Linked DNA regions of Homo sapiens: region 1 is linked to region 2. Evidence: fine-mapped expression QTL. A gene starts in region 2. The other region holds a variant in brackets. All regions are shown on one strand. Distances are from middle to middle.

What was found. PIP is the estimated chance that this variant, and not a neighbour inherited with it, causes the effect.
Region 1: its variant is fine-mapped to the expression of ARF3 in whole blood (TOPMed, PIP 0.95).

Annotation. Positions count from the first base shown.
Region 1 is chr12:48,899,481-48,902,387 of GRCh38, reverse strand. No RefSeq gene overlaps it. Among named protein-coding and RNA genes, the nearest start is that of DRC2, 3.2 kb to the left of the region's middle. RefSeq lists a silencer at 776-976. The variant G/A (reference allele first, on the strand shown) is at 1,845.
Region 2 is chr12:48,955,842-48,958,748 of GRCh38, reverse strand. It overlaps ARF3 (ARF GTPase 3), which reads left to right and starts at 1,262. Exons shown (of 5, transcript NM_001659.3): 1 at 1,262-1,439. RefSeq lists enhancers at 1,935-2,014, 2,070-2,907.

The DNA of each region.
Region 1 (2,907 bases), 56 kb after region 2:
GCTGGGATTACAGGCGTGAGCCACCATGTTCGGCCAAAAAAACCCCTATGCTCAGTGAAATAAGCCAGACACAAGTGATTACATATTGTATGGTTCCATTTATATGAAATATCCGGAAAAGGCCAAGCTATAAAGACAGAAAGTAGATTACTTTCTTTTCTTCTCCCTTCCCTTCCCTTCCTTTCTTTCTCTCTTTCTCTCTCCCTCTCCCTCTCTCTCTCCTTTTTTGACTGAGTCTTTCTCTGTTGCCCAGGCTGGAGTGAGGTGGCACAGTCTCGGCTCACTGCAACCTGCACCTCCCAGGTTCAAGTGATTCTCCTGCCTCAGCTTCCCAAGTAGCTGGGATTACAGGCACCCGCTACCACACCCGGCTAATTTTTTGTATTTTTAGTAGAGATGGGGTTTCACCATGTTGGATCACCTAAGGTCGGGAGTTCGGGACCAGCCTGACCAACATGGAGAAACCCCATCGCTACTAAAAAGACAAAATTAGCTGGGCGTGGTGGCACATGCCTGTAATCCCAGCTACTCAGGAGGCTGAGGCAGGAGAATCGCTTGGACCCAGGAGGCGGAGGTTGCGGTGAGCTGAGATCGTGCCATTGCACTCCAGCCTGGGCAACAAGAGCGAAACTCCGTATTTAAAAAAAAAAAAAAAAAGCGAATTATGTGATATGCAACATGTGCCCCAATAAAGTTGTTTTAAATATGAAATATAATACATTACTCAGAACTCTCCAGAAAAACAGAACCAATAGGATGTGTGTATTTATTTATTATAAGCAATCGGTGTTATTATTGGAGGCTCAGAAGTCCCAAGATCTGCAATTAGCAACCTGGAGATTTAGGAGAACCGATGTGTAGTTCTAGACTAAAAGCCAGCCAGCTCAAGGTCCAAGAAGAGTCTGAGTTTCAGTCTGAGTCAGAAGGCCAGAAAAGACTGCCTCAGCTTAGGCAGTTAGTCAGGAGGAGCTGCTTTTACTCAGCCTTTTTGGTTTATTCATGTCTTCAATGATTGGATGAGGCTCACCCATGTTACAAGGGCAATCTGCTTTACTCAATCTACCACTAATTAATTCTCAATCCAATTCAAATATTAATCTCATCTGGAAACACCCTCACAGACAAAACCAGAATAATTTTTTTTTGTTTATTTTTCTTTAGACAGAAAACTCATTTTGTCACCCAGGCTGGAGTACAGTGATGCAATTGTAGCTCAGTGCAACCTCGAACTCCTGGACTTTAGGGATCCTCCCACCTCAGCCTTCTGAGTAGCTGGGACTACAGGTGTGCACCACCATACTCAGTGTTTTTTTTTTTTTTTAGTCATAGTCTTGCTGTTGCTGTTGTCAGCCTGGGCTGGAGTGCAATGGCATGATCTTGGCTCACTGCAACCTCCGCCTCGCAGGTTTCAGCAATTCTCCTGACTCAGCCTCCGGAGTAGCTGAGATTACAGGCATCCACCACCACGCCTAGCTAATTTTTGTATTTTTAGTAGAGACGGGGTTTCACCATGTTGGCCAGCTGGTCTCGAACTCCTGGAACTCCTAACCTCAGGTGATCCACCCACCTTGGCCTCCCAAAGTGCTGGGATTACAGGCGTGAGCCACCGTGCCCAGCCAACTATTTTTTTTTATTTTAATTTTTTTGTAGCGACTGGGTCTTGCTATGATGCCCTGGCCGGTCTTAAATTCCTGGCTTCAAGCGATCCTCCTACCTCAGCCAACCAAAGTGCTGGGATTACAGGCACAAGCTACTGTGCCTGACCTCCAGATTAATGTTTGACCAAATGTCTGGGCCCTCCGTGGCTCAGTGAGGTTGACACATAAAATTAACCATTACAGGCC[G/A]GGCGCAGTGACTAACGCCTATAATCCCAGCACTTTGGGAGGCCGAGGCGGGCGGATCACGAGGTGAAGAGATCGAGACCATCCTGGCAAACATGGTGAAACCCCTCATAAAAATATAAAAATGAGCTGGGCGTGGTGGCACACGCCTGTAGTCCCAGCTACTCTGGAGGCTAAGGCAGGAGAATTGCTGGAACCCGGGAGGCGGAGGTTGCAGTGAGCCAGAGATTGTGCCACTGCACTGCAGTTTGGCGACAGAGCAAGACTCTGTCTCAAAAAAAAAAAAAAATTAGCTGGGCATGGTGGCACACACCTGTAGTCCCAGCTACTCAGGAGGCTGGGGTGGGAGGAACACTTGAGCCTGCATTTCGAAGCTTTGCATTGATGCTGCACCCCAGCCTGGGTGACAGAGCAAGACCCGGTCTCAAAAAGAAAAATAAAACACTAATCCCTTCCTCAGAAGAGGAGGTAAAATCCTTGAGTGATGTTTACTCTTCTTCATATCCCATAACTCAGATATTATGATGCAAAATTAATAATACTTAAAACTATGACATAAAGTTAATACATCTTATGTTACATTATGAGGGAATAAAAGAGAAAAGAAAATGAAGATATTTGCTTGATATACACACACATAAACATATAAATAACAAAATGAGGAAATACTCATGGCAATCATAGTCCTAGGGTCCATAACTGGTCACGTGGTCATAGCTGGTATTAATAGCTACCGTTTTCTACTACTATCCTATTCCCTTTGCCTTCAGCAAGCACCTTAACAGGTGTTGACCTGTTTCTTTACCTGATGGACTGACTCAAAGCTTCATTTCTGAAGGGTCTGGGCCATTAGTAGTCCTGGATTGTTTTGTTCTAGTTTTCCATTGACCTTAATCACAGGTCACAGTAATACTGAGATGACCTAAGGAATCTTCCTTAGTATATCAAGGAATCTCCTTGATATGCTCATACTTACCTCCATTGTGAAGTAATATTCCAATTTTTCTTTTTCTTTTTTTTTTTTTTTTGACGGAGTCTCACTCTATCACCCAGGCTGAAGTGCAAT
Region 2 (2,907 bases):
CCATATTGGCCAGGATGGTCTCAAACTCCTGACCTTAAGTGATCTGCCCACTTCAGCCTGCCAAAGTGCTGGGATTACAAGTGTGAACACAGGGCCTGGCCCCAGCTTAGTTCTTCTTGGAAGCAAGGAAACAAACAAACAAAATCAACCAAGGCAATAAATTCATAAGAGCAACAATTTGGGCTCAAGCCTTAGGGAAGAGCCATGTGTTCATTCCCTTATACTGCTGTAAATGAGGAGAGAGGGCACTTAGAGAACCTTCTATTGGCCGGGCGCGGTGGCTCACGCCTGTAATCCCAGCTACTCAGGAGGCTGAGGCAGGAGAATCGCTTGAACCCGGGAGGCAGAGGTTGCAGTGAGCCAAGATGGTGCCATTGCACTCCAGCCTGGGCGACAGAGTGAGACTCTTGTCTCAAAAAAAAAAAAAAAAAAAGGAACCTTCTGTTCTTAGCATTACTAGTGCCCTTCTATCACAGCTATTTTTGTTTCAAGGCAGTTCTGCATGTCTAGACCAGGTGCAAAACGGAGTGTGAGGGAAGTAGGAGTGGGTAGGAAGCAAGAAATATGGGTGCAAAGTCCTTCACCTTTCCTTGGGATACTAAAATCCCTACTCATCTAGGCACACTTCCTCAAACCACACTTCTGAATATTAGGTTTCCACTCTCCGTCTTTCAAGTTCCAACTTAACTGGCTCAGAGTCCAGCTGTTTTCCTTTAGCCTCTTAAGTTCATCACTCTCCTTCCTCTTCCTTATGGGAAAGGATCTCTTGATTCAGACCCCACAGTAATCTAGTCTCAGGAATAGTGAGCAACAACAATGGTGCGGTGAGGGCTTTCAGGGGATGGCAGCTAGCCCAGATTAAGAAATAAAGATGAAGTCTGGCTGGGTAAGGCATGCCACAGCAACGACTGTTCACCCATATCCCGATGCTGGCTTTGCCCAAGGAGCCCCTGGGCCCCGCAGCCCAGCCCGTCTCCTACGCAGCCAACTTGCCGCCTCAGTCCTTAAATTCCAGGCACAACCCTGGAGCTTGGGATTGTCACCTCAGTCCTCACTGTCTCATCCCCATTCACGGCTCCCGCCTCCGCCGCCCACAGCCCCCACACCTGCCCCCGCCCTGACTCCAGCTCCAGCGCCCGGCCGCCGGTGCTGCAGCCGCTGCCATGGTGATGGGTCTCGCGAGAACTGCCGCTAGCTACCGCGCAGCTATCGCGCGATCGGGGAGGTGGGAAGTATCCCGGGCTGGGGGTGGGGGTACGCCGCACAGCTCCAGTCGCCGTCGCGGCTTCCGGTGCTAGGTGGAGGGAAGGAAGGAGGGAGCCGGGGAGTGGGCCAGGGCAGCAGCCGGGCTGAAGTCGGCTTGGGGAGCCAGAGGGAGCGGAGCGGAACCTGCGGGGCAGAGGCGGCGGCCGCAGCGGCGCAGCTGATAGCAGGAACAGGTGAGAGGCTGGGAAGGGAAGGCGGGTCCCGGTAGAGAAGAGGCTCGGTCAGGGTGAGGGCTGAGGAGATAGAGCGCCTCCCGGGCCCCGCCCGGCACTGCTTGGCGTGGGGCGGTGGGATTCTTCCCACCCGAGAGCTCAGAGAGGGTGCGTCGGGCCAGCTTCACGCCTGCCCCCGCATTTGAAGGACGCAGAGCTGGGGTGGGGGTGGGGGGCGCACACGGATTTGTCCTCCGCCTCGCTCAAGGGGGCGACCTGGGCTGCAGTTAGGTTGTCGCCTGCAGGAGGTGTGCTGTTGAGGGAGAGGAAAACCGTCCGAGGAGAGGTGATGAGGGGGCGGTGATGGCTGTTTGTATCTTTTCTGTTAAAGGGCTAGGGAATGCTGCTTTCTTCTACTCCCTCTCCCTCCCCCACCTTAGCAATAGGAGACGGGAGAGAAGCCTTGCTGTGGTTACACCCCCTCCCCCATCATAGGGCAGGGGTGCGTAGGGGGGTTGGGGGTTAGCCAACAGGGCAGGCTGCTGGGGCACCACATGGGCGCTATTGTGGTAGAGGTTGCGCTTTCGAGTCTAGGGAACCGCAGGTTGGGAAGAGGGCAGCAAGTGGGGAGAGGGTGGAGAGGAGGCAGGAGAAGGAGGAGGGGGATCTGATCTTCCTGGGAGAAGAGAGGTGGGGCCTTCCTCCCCAGGCGGAGCGGGGGCGGTCTCACAGGAGGAGGGAGCATCTTGTCACTGGCCCTCAGTTTGTGTCTTCCAATCCGCTTTCTTTCTTTAGGAAGTACCAGGATTCCCGGAACAGAAAATGGAGCCATTGCTTACGCGAATCGTTTGAGGGAAGGGGCGGGAGTTGGGGAGGTGGAGTTCCCTGTTAAAACGGGCCACTTGATTAGCAAAGTGGTAGCTGTTATTTTGGGGGAATTCCCGTCTTGATTGCATTAAGGCGGGTCTCCATCTTTCCAGGCCAGGAGGAATGTGGTGGTGGAGGTGGAGGATTGTGGTATGTGGTCAGGAGTGAGAAGAAATAGTAAGGCCGTCCCGGTGAGGGAGAAATGTAACCTAAAACCTGTCTCTGCTGTTGTTGGATTGGGTCACCCCTGGTCTATGGCATGAAAGTTTTATTGGGAGGAGATCTGCTGCAAGAGTCTGATTGCTTGGGTCAGTGCAACAGGACAGAATCTAGTCGCTGCATACCTCCTTCCCTGTCCTCAATCAGGTAGGTAGTAACAGTCTTTGCTGCTATTTTGTCTTGGGCTTGTTGTTGGGGTAGGTGTTTCCACTTGCCGTGACTTGGGACATGGGACAGTGTTATGGGACAGTGGATTATCATAGCCCATTGGACTTGAGTTTGAAAAACATGTCTGTAAAAGTTCATTCTAAGAAAGAAACTAATCCATTAAGGTTCAGCTTTTCACCGAATGAATGATTGACCTTGGATTCAGCCAGGAAAGGCTCCCATGTATCACATATTC